Regions from separate parts of the Homo sapiens genome. Here region 2 is linked to region 1. A link means that fine-mapping ties the variant in region 1 to the expression of a gene that starts in the linked region. Tissue or cell type: whole blood. Region 1 holds a variant in brackets; the other region holds the start of a gene. All regions are shown on one strand. Distances are from middle to middle.

Region 1 (8,102 bases):
AACACAGGCAGGAAGACAAGACCCTGGCTCCAGCCTGCCCCTCTCCAGACCCCCCATCCCTGACCTCTGCCACCTTCCCTAGGCCCCGTGGATCTCCCCTGTCTTCCCCACCTTCCTACCCCATCCTCCTCAGTTGTCCTAGCACTGATTATTGTACTTTCCATCAAGAGCTGGAAGGGTCTTGGAGAGGGTCTGCTCCACCCTTCCTACTCTGCATCTGGGGAAAGTGAGGCCCAGGGAAAGGAAGCAGCTTGCACAAAGCCATGGGGGTTAATTAGTCAAAACAAACCTCACCTAGGGAGGCCCACAATTTCCCATCCAGTGCTTTCTTACTGCATTTCAGCCTCCATCATATACCTCCTTTATCCTTTAAACACGCTGTTTGTAGGAGCACTGGGCTAGGAGTCCAAGCTAGGGTGCAGTACTGCCTCTGTCATAACTGCATGTGACGTCATCCTTAGGGCCTCAGTTTTCTCAGCTCTAAAATGGGCATTAAAGATTTCCTTCCAGTTGGAAAAAAAAAAAAGTTAATATGTGAGAAAATGTAGTTGGGAAACCAGTCCTGGGCCCAAATCTCAGCTGACTGCCAGTGAATAACATGAAAACGAAAACATCCTTAAACAACACACATGTTAAATTAATTAAAAGAGATGAAAATAGTACGAGGCAATGTTGGCCCAGCTGGGAGGAAACGGGAACATTGGCTCCTAAATTCTCCACAGCTCTATTGTTTGGGCTATAGCAAAATGTAACAGCAGCAGCTACTGCCGGAGAGAACAACTCATGCCCTTCGGCTTGGCAGGTTATCACACATTTGGAAATAAATCTCAAAGAAATAACACAAATGGAGAAAAGCAATTTGCACTAATATGATTATCTGGAATGTGAAAAAAACTAGAAAGGTCCAAACTGGTCATTAAGCCATGGAATTTATACGTGAAGGAATAACAGCTCACACTGTGGCAGCAGCTGCCGGTTGCCTCCCTGGATCCATCTCTCTTCCACCCTTAGAAAAAACTTTAGCAGGGTACATGGCTGCCCAGAAGAGATATTCCATTTCCCAATATCCCTTGCAACTAGGTGTGGCCTTGTGACCAAGTTCTGGCCAAAGGGATATAAACAGAACAGTCATCTGTGACACATGTCATTACAGAGAGGAGCATGCCCCTCCTGGAGCTTTCTTCCTTCCCGCTGGCCGGAATGCAGTTGTGATCATTTGAGTTTCAGCAGCCACCTTGGGCCATTTGGAGGAAGGCATCTGCTGTGCATGGCAGAGTCACGTGAAAGAAGGAAGCTGATTCATTATCACCAGGTCACCGTGTCAGCCCTGGACTGCCTACTTCTGAACTTTTTACTTGAGGGATTAAAGTAACCCTGGGTGTTTAATCATTGTTAATTTGGATTTTCTGCCATTAATAACCAAATCAAGTTCTAACTGATAGAAACACGCAGGGAAAAAACGTTGAATGGAAAAGTAGGCACAAAAGTGGATGTTCTTCATGGATCCCAGCTATTTAAGTTATAGATTGGTACAGAGATGGTGATTGAATGGTGAGTCATCAATAATAGTGTGATGGTGTTGATTGGATTTTTCCCTCTGTAAACAAGTTTAGTTGCTGAATCGGTCAGGAGAGGCTAGGTTATGCTGAGGTGACAAGCAACTCCTAAATTTCAGGGCCGTAAGACAACTCAATTTAATTCTTACTCTCCATGTTCGTCGTGGGTCAGCAGGAGGCTGTGCTCATGGCAGTCACTCAGAGCACTGGCTGACAGAGACGCTGTGACAGAGGGCAAGAGAGAACGCTGGAAGGTCTCGCTCTCACCAGGAATTAAATGCCACGGCCTGAAAGTGACACTTTCATGGTGCTCACAACTCATTGGCCAGGACCAGTCCTAGAACCTGGCCCACCCACATGGAGGCAACGAGTGCAACTCTGCCACCTGCCCAGAAGGCGGCGAGCTGGAGAGACTTGGCAGATTGCACCAGTGATGATCACAGATACATCATGAAGAAAACGTAAGAGCACAAACATTTGTGAAATAATTTTTAGAAGTCCTTCCAGAAAAAGTAAAGTTTTATGTTTCTATAAGCCTTTATTTTATTTTATTTTATTTTATTTTATTTTATTTTATTTTATTTTATTTTATTTTATTTTATTTTATTGATGGAGTTTCTCCATCTGTCGCCCAGGCTGGAGTGCAGTGGCGTGATCTCAGCTCACTGCAACCTCTGCCTCCCAGGTTTAAGTGATTCTCTCACCTCAGCCTCTAGAGTAGCTGGGATTACAGGCGTGTCCCACCATGCCCGGCTAATTTTTGTATTTTTAGTAAACATGGGGGTTTCACCATATTGGCCAGGCTAGTCTCAAACTCCTGGCCTCCATTGATAGAACCATCTCGGCCTCCCAAAGTGCTGTGATTATAGGCATGAGCCACCATGCCCGGCTGAGCCTTTGTATTCCTGATGCAAGTCTGAATTCCTTGAGCACAAGAAATGCCCTGCCTTCTTCGGTAGTTGCCACAGGCCTATCCCAGGGCTGGGCCCATGGGAAGCGTTAGAGAAGGAACTGCAATCAGAATGATGGTAGGTGACATGCTCGCCATGTGCTGGGCACTGCACATTCCATCCGGAGCCCTTATGGACGTGCCAGACATGCTTCTCTGCACCTTAGATGGATTAACTCATCGAATCCTTACAAAAAACCTTTGAGGGTAGTACTGTTATTATCCCCATTTTACACAGAAAGAAACTGAGGCACAGATGGGTTAAGTGACTTGCCAAGGATCACCACTAGGAAGAGGCAGAGCCAGGAATGAATGCAGGTGGCTCCAGAGCCCGTGCAATCCTGTGACTTTGCCCAAGCTCTAGAAGGCAGGAACAGCAGTGAGAAAAGACAGAGTTCTGTCCTCACGGGGCTGCAGCAGTCTACCCTGTGTGGAGCCCCTGTGATAGGTGGAATACGGCCACCATCAAGAAGTCCACGTCCTAATCCCTGCAGCCTGTGTATGCTATCTTATTCCTTATTCCTTATAGAAAAGGAACTTTGTAGGTATGATTAAATTAAGGATCTTGAGAAGGAGAGATTATCCTGGGTTACTGGGGTGGGCCCAGTGTCATCACAAGGGTCCCCATAAATGGAAGAGGCAGGAGAGTCAGAGATATGGTGGTAGACACAGAGACTGGAGTGATGTCGCCGCCAAATCAAAAAATGCTGGCAGCGTCTAGAAACTGGAAGAGGCCAACAATGAAGCCCCTCCCCCGCCCTGGGCCGGAGCCTCTGAAAGGAATGCAGTCCTGCCAACACCTTGATTTTAGCCCCAGAAGATTTATTTATTTATTTATTTATGAGCTAGGATATCACTCTGTTTCCCAGGCCAGAGTGCTGTGGCATGATCTCAGCTTACAGCAACCTCTGCCTCCTAAGTAGCTGGGACCACAGGCATGCACTACCACACCCGGCTAATTTTTTGTATTTTATGTAGAGATGGGTTTTCACCATGTTGCCCAGGCTGGTCTCAAACTCCTGGGTTCAAGCAATCCATCCACCTCAGCTTCCCAAAGTGCTGGAATTACAGGGGTGAGCCACTCCTCTCAGCCCTTATAAGATTCATTTTGGACTCTTGACTCCTAGAACTATAAGAAAATAAATGTGTGTTGCTTTAAGCCACAAGGGTTGTAGTAATTTGTGAAAGCTGCAACAAGGAAACTAATACACGCCACCCCTCCATTTTGCTCTTCAGAGACCCACTGGGTAGACAGAAACTCTTGTACACCCTTCGCCCCAGCCCCTTGCGTCTCCTTGAGATGGAGGCTGAGAAAGAGCTGGGAAGGAGCTGGGAAGGGTCGTTCTATCCTGGTTACCTTGGGAAATGGTGAGCATTGCTTACCCTGTTCCTGGGGTCCCGGGCAAATCCTGGCTCTGCCTGTAGAACAGGACTCCCCTCCCACAGCCTTCTCCACCACCCTTTCCCAGAGCTGGGATAGCCTTTCTCCTGGGCATGAATGAGGGGTCTTTAAGGCCTTAATGCCTCTCACTCCTGCACCCAGACTGGGCCCCACCACTCTCCTGCACTAGTACATTACCCACACCCATGAGCCAGGCCGGCTTCATCTCTGCTGAACCATCAGGGGAGGTGGAGGGCATGCCAGCCAAGGGAACAGAGTCTCGGAGAGACCAGCCCAGAGAGAAGCGGGCAGAGACAGGCAGAAGGGGAATTGGCATGAGCAGAACACAGAGACTCAGAGGTGGGGAAGGGGAAGCAGAAAGAGGAAACAGAGCCAGAGACATACGGTGAGCATGCCGGTGGCTTTCTCCCTGAACTGCTCCAGTGGTGTGTAGCCGCTCGGGTGCAGTCGATAGCTGGGTTTACCAGGGTAGCTAATTCCTGGTCCTGTCAGCTGTGGCAATGACCAAGGGCTTCACTTCATAACACAAAACCCACACTCCTTTCCATGACTGCAAGGCCCGACTGACTTTGGCCCCTGGATCCACTTGGACTTTGTTTCCCACGATGCTTCAGGCACTGTGGCCTCCCCGAATACCCCAGGGACATCCTCTCCTTGCACACAAGTCTCTGCACAGGTCACCTTTTTACAAGACCCTTCCTTGACCACCCTTTCTAGAACAGCAGCCGGCTACATCCCTCTAACTCAGTTTTTCTCCATAGCATTTATCACAACCTGACACTAGACCAATGGGTATTGGTTGAATGTCTGTCTCTCCAACATCAACACTGTACCCCAGTGTGTCCATACTCTGCTGCCCACACAGTAGCTATGAGGCCCTGGTGGCTACTTAACATTTGCATTTGTATTAATTAAAATGTAATACAGGTGGGCCGGGCACGGTGGCTCACGCCTGTAATCCCAGCACTTTGGGGGGCCGAGGCCATTGGATCACCTGAGGTCAG[G/A]AGTTTGAGACCAGACTGGCCAACGTGGTAAAACCCTGTCTCTACTAAAAATAGAAAAATTAGCTAACATGGTGGTGCACGCCTGTAATTCCAGCTACTGGGGAGGCTGAGGCAGGAGAATCACTTGAAACCTGGAAGTGGAGGTTGCAGTGAGCTGAGATTATGCCATTGCACTCTAGCCTGGGTGACAAGAGTGAAACTCCGTCCCAAAAAAAAAAAAAAAAAGTAATACAGCTGGAAGCTCAGCTCCTCAGCATCCTCACCATATTTCTGGTGCTCAGAACCCACATGCGGGTTAACAGTACCCGACTGAAGAGCCCAGAATGCATTTCCATCATCCTAACTTTGTGCCAAGAATCAAACTCATAATCAACTCATATAAAGCAGGTGGACACACAGCAGAAGGAATCCCAGCAGCTCCACACTGAACAGGTGTAATTATGCTGCCCCAGCACCCCTCCTGGCCTCCAGGTGCCCCTTGAACTCCCCTCCTGCCTCTCTCCCTGGCCTCTCCCCTGGGGCTCACTGCTGCGTCTTCCTCCCTTGGTGGGGTCGGCGCCTCCTCCTGCCGACCCTGTGCTCACCCTCTCCAACTGCATTAGCTGGGTTGTCGTTGCTAATCTGTGTGCCTCCCCACGAGCTGGGGGCGGCCAGGGAGCTTGGATGGACCTTTCACCTCTGCCACCATGACAGCACAAAGAGCCTTGGAAAATGCTGGCTCCCAGTGGGCTTTCCCCCTTCTCCCTTCTCTGTGCTCCTGGTGTCCAGTTTCACACTCTCCATCGCCACACCCAGGGCAGAGGGCCCCAGCCTCCCCGAGCTGCTGGAGCCACGTACCCAGCAGCCGGGGTGGGGATGGGACAGGATGGGCCCTGTGGTTGCTGAGGGAGCAGGCCAGAGAAAGGCGCCCTTTCTGACACTCGGCGTTGCCTCTCTTGGTTTCATCTTCTCATACAGCCATAGCAACATGGCAGGTCAACAGGGTACCTTTAAAATTATGGGAAAGGCTCATGCTTTTTTGGTGAATGAGTTCAGGGAAGCCTATGCTGTCCCGTGGCACATTCCCCTGCCTCCCCTGCCCGCCTCCTGCCATGTAGGGCAGGCCCCTTGGAGACCCCCTGCCACCTTCCCTCCCCACCTTCCTCTCTGGGATCCTGGCCCAGGCCAGGCAGCAGGGCTCCAGGTGGGCAGGGGGGCAGGGAGAGAGCAGGGCCCAGGGCCATGTGAATGTAGGAGAGGAGGCCCCAGGTGTGTGTGTGTGTCCCCAGCCCTGCCCCCAGCCCTGCCTCCTCTGCCAGGATTCTGAGCCGTCTCGCTGTTGTCATCTTGTCTGATCTCTCAGACCGTGCAGAAAGCCACACTGTCACTGTTCCCCTTGCCTTCAGCCTCCCCAGACCCCCTGGGATGTGGGCTCCTCCCACCGCCTCTCAAGACCCCCATTCACCCACATGATGCCAGGGGGAGAGCAAGCTCTTCAGACAAGGAAAGGGCTGGAAGAGGTGCTTAAAGTGGTGAGGGGATCAAGGTGTCATAGTGGCTCAGAGGAAGGGAGAGAAGCTCGGATGCACACTCATGTACATCCAGGACCTAGAAGCTATCCCTCCCTGCTGCTCTGCACACAAGCTGTAGGAATCAGGAATTGCATTTTTCCAGGGAGGATGTCATCCACAAGCCTGGACACTGAGAGTTGGGGTATGTGAAGCCCAGCGCTGAGCTTGTTAAATACTCCTGATTCAAGATCCCCACTGCCCTGGAGCCTGGGGTCTCAGAGGATACAATCCCCTTTGGGTCCAGGCCTGGGAAACCCACTGTACCTCCCATCCCCAGGCTCCCAGAGTCCCATCCTCGCACTGGCAAACAGGAGGGGAATCACCCACGCTGCACTCCTACTCTCTGGAGGGGGAGTGTCCTTACTTTGGCCTGAGTCTCCTCTTTGGCATAAGAGTGCTTCTCATCGGGAGGACCTGTGGAGTCTCCCTGCGACATGTGGTCATTCACCCACCCACTGCAGTCCAGGACAGTGGTATGGACTTACCCAGGCTTCCTAAGAGCCAGTTCAATTCGTTGTGGTGCCTCAGTGCTCACTATGCCAGAGCTGGACAGCACCGTCGAGAAGCCCCGCATTCCACAGAGGAGACAACTTGGCCCAGAGGGGAGAGGGATTTATCCAAGATCATGCAGTAAGTTAGGGCCAAAGTCCAGATGCAACCTCAGGTCCCCTGATGACCAGACTGATGCTGGGGGGCTGCGTGAACATGCATCAGAGCCTGAGCATGTGCACCTGCTCTGGCATGGTGATCACGTTCCCCTCTGTCCACTGGGTAGGAAACTTGCTCTTGCTCCTCCCCTTCAGGAGCTGCTGGTCGGACTGAAGGGGTGGCCATCGCAGTGGGGTCGGGGGCCATTTCCTCAGAAGCTCCCAAGGACCCAAAGGCGCCTTGGGGGAAGTGGGTATCTGCCCATCTGCTGGCTGCCCTGTATCCAAGCTCCCTCCCTCTTAGCAGAATTTCCCACAGTGTGAATCTGGATGGCAGAGACCCAACTCATTCTGAAAGCCAAAGGGGTGCAGAGGCAGAGGTTACAGTGAGCCGAGACTGTGGCAGCGTCTCCCTTCCCTGACCTGGCAACTCGTCTGTGGGCACACAAACTACTGTGGCCAGTAGGGCGTTTTTGTCCAGGATTTTATTTTTTAAATTAACATAGAGCAAAATTGATGTAATTATTTTGGTGTATAGTTTTGTGGTTTTCTATTTTTATATTTAAAAATTGTTTACATAATAGAGACAGAGTCTCACTATGTTGCTCAGGCTGGTTTCAAACTCCTGGGCTCAAGCAATCCTCTTGCCTCAACCTCCCGAAGGGCTGAGATTACTGGTGTGAGCCACTGGGCATGGCTGTTTTATGAATTTCTAGCACAAGCATAGATTCATGTCACCACCACCACAATCAGGACACAGAACAGTTCCCAAAAAACTCCTTCCTACTATCCCTTTGTCTGGGATCTTGACCTGGAGAGAGTGGGATGCAAAAGTGGGACCGTCACAAATTGCTCATGATGTACCAGTGTCCAGATGAGCTGGGTGTCCTCAGGTGGCCGGTGTCCAGAGGCGGCAATGTCCCCTGCCCTAGCTGGGCTGTCTCTGGCCATGACTGCCTGCCTCCCCTTCAACCAGCCTATTTTGCTTCTGGCC
Region 2 (8,102 bases), 110 kb after region 1:
ACCCCAAGCCTCTGTTAGCCCCAGGAAACCAAAGTTTCAAGGCATGGGGTAGGAACTCCAGTGAAAAACCTCAAGTGCCCACACCCAGATCAACACCCGGGAGATGACACTGGGACACTCACTTCCTGAAATTCCTTCTCCGTGCTCCCCAGAGGAGGGAAAAAAACCTGACTTAGTGATAATTCTGTAAGCTGTGTTGCTCTTGTCAAATTATTCAACATCTGTCTTCATGTTCCTACAAAAATTAACATAGGATAGTAGTTTCTGATGACACCTTTGGTGAAATATTTTGACTTCCACCAGTAAGTTGCAAACAACCTGTCTTAAGGATAATGTCAATTCCCACTTCTGCATATTAAATAATTCAGGGGTTTGTTGTGTTTTTGTAAGGGAGAGGAATCCCACTGACCTGCGGTCCGACTGCTATGAGAGGAGCAGAAGCCGGGACAGAAGGCGGGGTGTTCCCTGACGCTATCCGCATGCAAGATATTCCTCTTCCATCACTTGGCTACTGCCTTTGCCCCAGAACTAGGCCACTGGGGCCAGCCCAGCCCCCTGGCTTGCCAGAAAGCAGATTACAGGATCCACCCCAGAGGACAACAAACTGGGCCAGGAGATTGGGAGGCGAGGAGGGAGGGAGAACTGGCTCCAAATGGACCATCTGGTCCAGCACTTGGCCGTTGTAGCATCTGTGCCCCAAAGAACAAAGCCACCTGGCCAAACTGAGAGTGCTGCCTCCCCAGCCCTATTGCAGACCATGGATCCTAGGGCAGGTGGTGGACCTCAGTGGGAAGCAGGACATAGGGTTCTAGGCACCTACCTCCTACCAGCCTCAGCAGAGACACACAGCCTAGGCCGAATGCCGTCAGGTTCGCTCTCCACCGCCTGCTCGTCTTCCTCCCCTCTGTTCAGCCCCTCCCTTATCCACACAGGTCTGGGGGCAGAGGGGCAGGGGCAGGGGATTCCTCCCCAGGATATACATTTTTCTCCTATGTCTTGAATTAGACCTGCTGCCTCCCTCCCCAGTGCCAGGGCAATACTAGGCTTCCAGCCTCTTCTCTCTTCTAGGGCTGCAGGATAGGACTCTGTGACTCGCCCTAAGCAGAGACCCTTAAACAATGCCCCCACTGCCCTGCTGGAAACCAAGTCCTAGAGAGACTTCTCATGGAGAAAGAATTTCCAACCTGCCCCCAACTATAGCCCTTTCTTCATTCAACAAATACCTGCCTAGCTCCTGCTGTTGTGCCGGGGACCATGCTGGATGCTGGATGCAATGCCAGGCTGGAGTGGCCATCCCTGGTCCCTATGTGCCGCCTTCACTCTCATGCTGTTTCTTCTGCTTCGCGGGTACAGAAAGACTGCTGGGGAGGGGGGCAGAAGAACTAGTCCCAGATCTTCGACCTACTTCTTAAGCCAGTCCTGGTCCTACAGAGATCCTCCCTTCTGCTGTATCTGGCCAAAGATTCTAGCATCACAAGGAACTCAGCGACCTCCTGTCATCCTCCTCCTCCTCCTCCTAAATCTTCTGCCTTCATCCACCTCAATAAAGACTTTTTACCCAGCAATTTCCCTGAAGCCCCAACACTGCCTGAAGCCAAGCTCTCAAAGGAAAAGTGGCATGTCACCCAAGGGCCCAGGGTCGGCCCCAGCACACCCAGCCCACTTTGATTGGCTCTGAGTGAGAGCAAATGGGACCTAGGCACAGGCGGGAGGGGAGAAAACACAGAGAGAAAAGGGTATAGATAAGCCTATGGCTGAATCCTGGCCCTAGAGTACTCTGAAATGAGGGTCCACAGAGACCACTGCCCCTGACTCCAAACCCCACTCTCATTGCTGGGTTTACTAGACTAGGAACAGAGGAACCTCCCAAAGATGAGCCCCAAGCAGCCTAGAGAAGGCTGGAGAAGCTGGAGGGGATGGAGGACAGGGATGACCAGGAGTGGGTCTTGCCAAATGCACCCAATGACACAGGGAAGGAGGGTAGAGTGGAGGACAGCAGCATGCAGGAAGGGCTCTCCATCACCCTCCCCAGCCCCGGGGCTGTGGTGAGAAGGCAAAGACCTCAGCAGCACCTCTCTTAGGCACCTTGACCTGGGGAGAAAGAAGAAAGTGAAACCCCAGTCCACTGGCATCTTCATCTGCCCTGGAGAGGCCAAGGCCTCCAGTACCTGCCCCGTGGCCTCCTCGCCCCAAACCCAGCCTCTCCCAGTCCCTGCTGCATTCTTTCCTGCCTTTCCTGGCCTCTGTGAGGGGCCAGGCAGTAAGAGACACACAAACTAATTAAGAAGCAGAGTTTGGCCAGATGCCTGGGCTAGTCTTACCAGAGAATTAAGGCCAAGCCAGCTAGCTGGGCAGGGCCAGGAGCATGTCACCTCTCAGACACCCTTCAGGACACCCCTTCTTCTTGCCAGGCACAGGCAGATGGGTCAGCACCCTCCAGGGTGCTTTAGCCTCAGCACCTGAGGCTGGCAACCAGTAGTCAGTGCCTATACTACCCCACAAAGAACAGGTCAACCTCCCCTGGATCTAAAAGAGGAATCATTAGTCCCTCCACCCAACAGAAAAGGAAAGAGAGAATCCTGCCCGCCCCAGCCACACATCACTAAAAAGGGACCTGGACAAACCATCCTGCAGTAAAGAGAAAGCAAAGTAAGGGCCACTGGGCCCCTGAGAATGATTTTTTGTGCTGTGGGGTTAAGGCACTGCGGGAGGCTGAGCCCAGGTGACTGAATGGATGATGCCTGCCCCGGGCCTTCCCTGGGAAAACCCACAGGATGGAAGGGGGAAGGGGTAACCAGAGTCTCCCTTGGTAACCACAGCGAGGCGTGCGGACGCAGGAGCAAGGCTGCGTGGCAGGAGGCAGAGTTTGGACACGTATCCCGGTGGGTGCGTGCCGTGTTTGCGTTTTCTGGGGATGGTGGCTGAATGTATCTGTGTGTGCGCGCAGGAAGGAAGGTGGGGTTGGGGTTTGTAGCCAAGAACCGGGGACAGGAAGAACTGGTTCAGGGAAGGTCCGAAAAGGGATGCCGGGGTCGAAGGCGCCAGGGCCAGGGGATGCCGGCATCCTGATCAGGGTGTCAAGCCCTGAGTAGAAGAAGCGAAGCCGCAGCAACAGCGGGGAAGGCGAGCCCGCCGCCCGGCCTTGGTGCTGACAGCCGGCTCGCCCGCAAGCCGCGCGGCAACTCCGGCTCATGCATCGCTTGGCTTCCACTCCGGAGGCCGAGCCAGGACGAGGTTTCGGTGCAAGTCGCTGCACCAGTCCTAGACTGGGTCTGTCCGGGTCTCCCGAGCCGACCGGGTGCTCTCAAGGGTTCCTAATCATTCCCACCTCTAGCAGGGTGTGGGAAAGTGGGTGCCTCCTCCTGACATCCCGGCTTCCCACCAGACCCTACGACCGGCCCCTGTGTTCCGAAGCAGCTAGCTCGGTCTCCACGCGCCCTGGAGAGGGCGGGGACGCGGGCATCCACTCCAGAGTCCGAGTCGAGGTCTCCACCAAACCCCGGCAGCGCGCACTTTGCGCCTCTTGCAAAGTTTCCGCGCGAGGTTAAGCCAAGGTGGAGCGGGACGCGGGCTCTTACCGTAGACTCCTTGTCCCCGGCAGTGGAAGGGGATCAGCGCCAGAAGTAGAAGGCAGGTCACCTCCATCTTCACGGCCGGTGCTTCATCCCCGCGAGGCGGCGCAGCCCGAGAGGCGGCGGGGGGCGCATTCGCCGGGGCCCCGCGACGCCCCTATGTCCCCCCCTTTCCCTGAGAGGTGAGAGAGAGAGCGGCGACGAAGACCAGGAGACTGAAGAGGCGGAGGTGGCGGCGACCCGTGTTTCTCCTCCGGCGGGGCCGCTGCCCGCGTGGGGACGCAGGGGGCGCTGGCCCAGCCCCGGGTGCCTCGGCGCGCCCGGCACAGCAGCCAGCGCCCCGACCCGAGGAGCCCGGCCGCCGAGCCGCCCCGGGTACCCAGGGCCGTCCGCGCGGGATGCTAGGCGCCGGGGACCTCTCGGCGGCGGAGGCGGCGCTTCGATCCAACAGGCCACGGACGACTGACAAACTTGTCGTTTCCCCGCACTGGGGCCGCCCCTCAGCGGAGCGGAGTCGGGGAGGCCGGGGCTCCGCTCGAGTTAATCAATCTGCTGTTTCCAGTCCTGCGGCCGCTGCCGTGGGCTCAGCGGCCCGACTCCAGGGGGCCGGGCTGAAAGCACTCGCGGCGGCGAAGCAGCCCCGGGCCCGGCCCTCCTGATCCGGGGAGCAGCGCGGGCTGGGTTCGGCCGAGGGACGAGCGCCGCGGGTCCCCGGGTCCGTGAAGTTAGCCGAGCCGCCGATAAACCCGGGGGAAGAATAGCAGCCCGGCGCCCCGCGGGAATCTGGAGAGCAATTCCAGGCAAGAAGGGCCCCAGAAAACGGGGAAAGGAGGAAAGTTTGAGTCTTTTGAAAAATATTCGCGCTCTCGCCCAGGCCGGGGCTGCGGCGCGGGCGCCGCTCGCCGCCTCCGCTCGCCGCGCTCCTCTCCCGCCGTCTGGCCGCGGCCGTAGCCCTCCCGGGCTCCGAGCTCTCGGGAGAGCGGGGCTACGCCGCGCCCCAAGTTGGTCGTCCCCGCCCCCGCCCGGCGGCCTTGGCCTGCGGGGGCCCAGAGCGGGCGGGGCCGGGCCGGGCTCCGGGGCGCGGCGGCCGCTCGGCTCCGGGCCGCGGGAGCGCTCCGCTCGCTCAGCAACTTGGGCTTTGCTGTGCTGCTTTTTCGCCCCTCCGAGCTTTTCATTCCGCGCTCCTCCCGCCTCCCTCCCTCTCTTCCTCCTCCCTCCTCCTCGCGTCTCCTCGTTCGGTCTCTCGCTCTCCCACCCGTTGTCGCTCGCTCTCCTGTTTGATTCCCCTCCAGTTAAAAAAAGGAGCCAATTAAAGGCAGCCCAGCTCGCCTGGCCCAGCCTCTGTCCAATTTCCTCGCCTCCCCCAGGACCAATTAGAGAAAACAAAACAGGGCTGGGGGAAGCTGACTGCCTGCCTTTCTCTTTCTCTTTCTCTTTCTCTTTCTCTCTCTCTCTCTCTCTCTCTCTCTCTCTCTCTCTCTCTCTCTCTCTCTTTCTCTCTCTCTCCTCTCTCTCTCTTCTCTCTCTCCTCTCTCTCTCCCTCTCGCTCTCTCTCCCTTCCTCTCCTCTCCTCTCTTTCCCTTTCTCCTCTCCCTCTCTCTCTCTTCCTCTCTCCGCCCCCTAACATTCCCCCCCAACCCCGCCCAGCAGGAAAATGTCAGAAAGCAGAAATGGATCCATCTATCCCGAGGACAGTGGCGGAGGGACCTGGGTTTCGGCGGGGGCTCTGCAGCCGCGCGCTCGCACACTCGCTGTTCTCCAGCCTTGCACACCCAGACTAGCTGGCCGAGCCGGGTGCACCGTTGCCAGCAGCCCGCGGGGCAAACACGGCCGCTCGCTTCGGAGACCCATGCCCGCAGGGCACTGCACACTTCGTAAATGTTTTGCACTTTGGGGAGGCGGGACTGAAGCGGGGGTCCTAGGGAAAGGCCGGGCGCCTGCGGTTCCTGGGGTCCTGCAGCCGCGCGAGACGGGCCGCGGCTGTGGGTCTGCAAGGCTGTCTGCCCGGCTCGAGAGGCCCCCGCCCCTTTCCAGGCGTCTGGTGCTGGGGCCGGGCCGGAGCAGCTGGCGGAGAGGTCGCGCTGAGAGCTCCTGCCCTTGCCGCGGCCCACAGGTTGCCAACAGGTTTGCTCGCACGACCCCTCCGCCAGAGCTTCCCTAAGTCACCCCACATTTTCCTCGGCTAGCCACTCTTCCCATCTTGCCTCCCCTCGGGACCTCAGGCGCCCCCAAGCGCCCCGGGGGCACACCTCCTTCCGGCTGCCGAACCCGAGCCCCGCTCCAGCGGCGGGAGTCCGGCACTCGGGTCTCAGCCGCCTCGAAGGGGCCCTCGCGGAGCAGGAGTGCGGAGAACGCTCCTCCCAAACGCCCGCGGGGAGGGGCGTAGGCTGGCAAGCGAGGCTGGTGGCCTCCCCCGCGCCTCCGATCCCGCCCCGCGCCCAACCCGGGTCCTGCTAATCTCACCTGCTCCACCTGTCGCCGTTATTTATCTCAGCGTGTGCGCAAGAATTGTTTTAGGTCGGCCCGTGGGAGCGCAGACAATCGCAGCAGCTAACAAGCGGGGAGACTACGAACCCCCCCTCCCTTCGCCCCCTGGAACTGCTCAATATCTTGATGGTGGTTCCACGGCTCTATGCATTTGTCAAAACTCAAAGATCTCCACACTCCAAAAAGGTTAGTCTGCATATAAATTGAAACATAAATTTTTTTAAAATAATAATAATGAACCGTCCCTTCCCCAGGCCCATTTCCTGCTGGGTCTCTCCTCCCTTGACTCTCCAGGGCTTAAGCCCCACCGGAGCGCGCGCTCCTGACTGCTGGAAGAGGAGCGGGAGGTGTCGGGAAGTGCCTGGTGGCATGGGGGGGTTCCACCTTCCTTTCTCAGCCCCCTTTCTGTCCATCTCAGGAAGCCCGAGAACATCCGAAGATTCCTATTCTCTAGCCCACCTCCACTCGTTTGCGCCTCCCTTGTGCCCTCTTCCGTCTTTTCTCTCCTTTCTACCCCGTGGGTCCAAGGCTGATAGGAAGTCCAGACTCAGTGCGGTGCTCCCAGCAGATGCCAGCTGCAGACATGTTCAGTGAATTCACGAATGATGCCCATCATGGCCAGATATCACAGACCTGGGATACCCTCAGGGTAGCCATCCTTTCACTCCCCAGCCCCGGACTGTTACCTCAAAGGCAAAAAATTCATTTTCTGTCCCACAGAGATACACAGCCACCATGCCTCTTCCCGCCTCCCCCATCCAGTCAGAAAAGGAAGTGGTGCCAATTGAGGGAGTGATGAGGGATAGCTTCTTCTATTGTCATCCTCTTCCCATTATTAGAGGGTTCCTGGAAGTCTCTACCCCTTCCAGGAAGCTCTCAGGGAGTGATCACAGCGACTGTGGCTCTTCCTGGCTTTGCCCATTCTGAGCTGAATGTGTACTTCTCCATGTCGTGCGAAACTGCGCTCTGATTTTCCAATTAGCTGTTCCAACACCAAACAGCAGTCAATTGCTCCTCTTTGGCTTTGGGGTGAGTTACTGGGGACAGAGAACTGCACTGACTCAGCTGACATTCTCTTGACTTTGCCCTCTCTAAACTCACACACTAGCCTGGAGGAGAAAGAAGGTTCATGATGGCGGGGTGGGGGGAACAGAGGACCAAGTTAGCCAGGCTGGGATTGAACATTTGCTGTAGCTAATCCACTTGTGAATACTCTGCAGCTAATTGTATGCAGTGTAAATACCTTGACAGCCTGTTTGTGTGTGTCTGTAAATTCAGCTGTCTCCTCCCCCAAGTGTGCCCTGCCTGCTGCCTCAACACAGCCCAGTGTCTGACAATGGGAGGCAACCTCAGAGAAGGGAAAGAGCCCTAGACATCAGTCCTGCGTCCCAGTCCTAACCTCTCTAGGCCTCAGTTTCCCCAGATGTAAACTAGGTAAGATCCCTGTCTTCCTAGAGAGAAGTGGAGTAATAAGAATAACAGCTGACACCACATGCCAGGCACTGTATTAACTATTTAATCTTCATAACCATTATGTAAGACAGGGCTGTTATTCTCATGGAATGACATAGGAAGATGTAGTGACTCACTCAGCTGCTAAGGGGCCAAACTGAGCTTTGACCTCAGTAGCTTGGCTCGGCGACCTTGCCCTCTCCCACTGTTCTATACTGAAGAGGGGCAAGGGCCTAGGTATCAAATAATGTTTCCACAAGAACTGTTTCCTGTTCCCTTTACAGACACAGAGAACAATACTCTGGCCCCCAAATTGCACCAAGGGCAGGGGGGACATGAGAGCTAGACTGCTAGACCTGACATGGGCCATAGGGCACAGGATGAGCCTGAGGTCAGGCTATCTGGAGGCTTGGTGGTCAGCACCCAGCTGCCAAGTCTTCGGTTCCACTCAAGATCATTCTAGGTCACTTCCCACTAGAAAAAAAAATATATATATATATATGTGTGTGTGTATATATATATATATATATATATATATATATATATATATTTGCCTCAAAGAAAACCTAGCACTTGGGCCCCAGGAGGTTT

Evidence for each region. PIP is the estimated chance that this variant, and not a neighbour inherited with it, causes the effect.
Region 2: MDGA1 starts here. The variant in region 1 is fine-mapped to the expression of MDGA1 in whole blood (INTERVAL, PIP above 0.99).

Annotation. Positions count from the first base shown.
Region 1 is chr6:37,579,177-37,587,278 of GRCh38, forward strand. LOC124901313 (a long non-coding RNA gene) reads left to right here. Exons shown (of 2, transcript XR_007059568.1): 2 at 1,154-1,386. Among named protein-coding and RNA genes, the nearest start is that of MIR4462, 28 kb to the left of the region's middle. RefSeq lists enhancers at 5,037-5,710, 5,711-6,383. The variant G/A (reference allele first, on the strand shown) is at 4,912.
Region 2 is chr6:37,693,167-37,701,268 of GRCh38, forward strand. It overlaps MDGA1 (MAM domain containing glycosylphosphatidylinositol anchor 1), which reads right to left and starts at 4,717. Exons shown (of 17, transcript NM_153487.4): 1 at 3,579-4,717. The coding sequence starts at 3,645. RefSeq lists enhancers at 2,611-3,340, 3,341-4,070 and silencers at 3,613-3,772, 3,803-4,092, 4,273-4,332, 4,393-4,522, 4,583-4,652 and 3 more.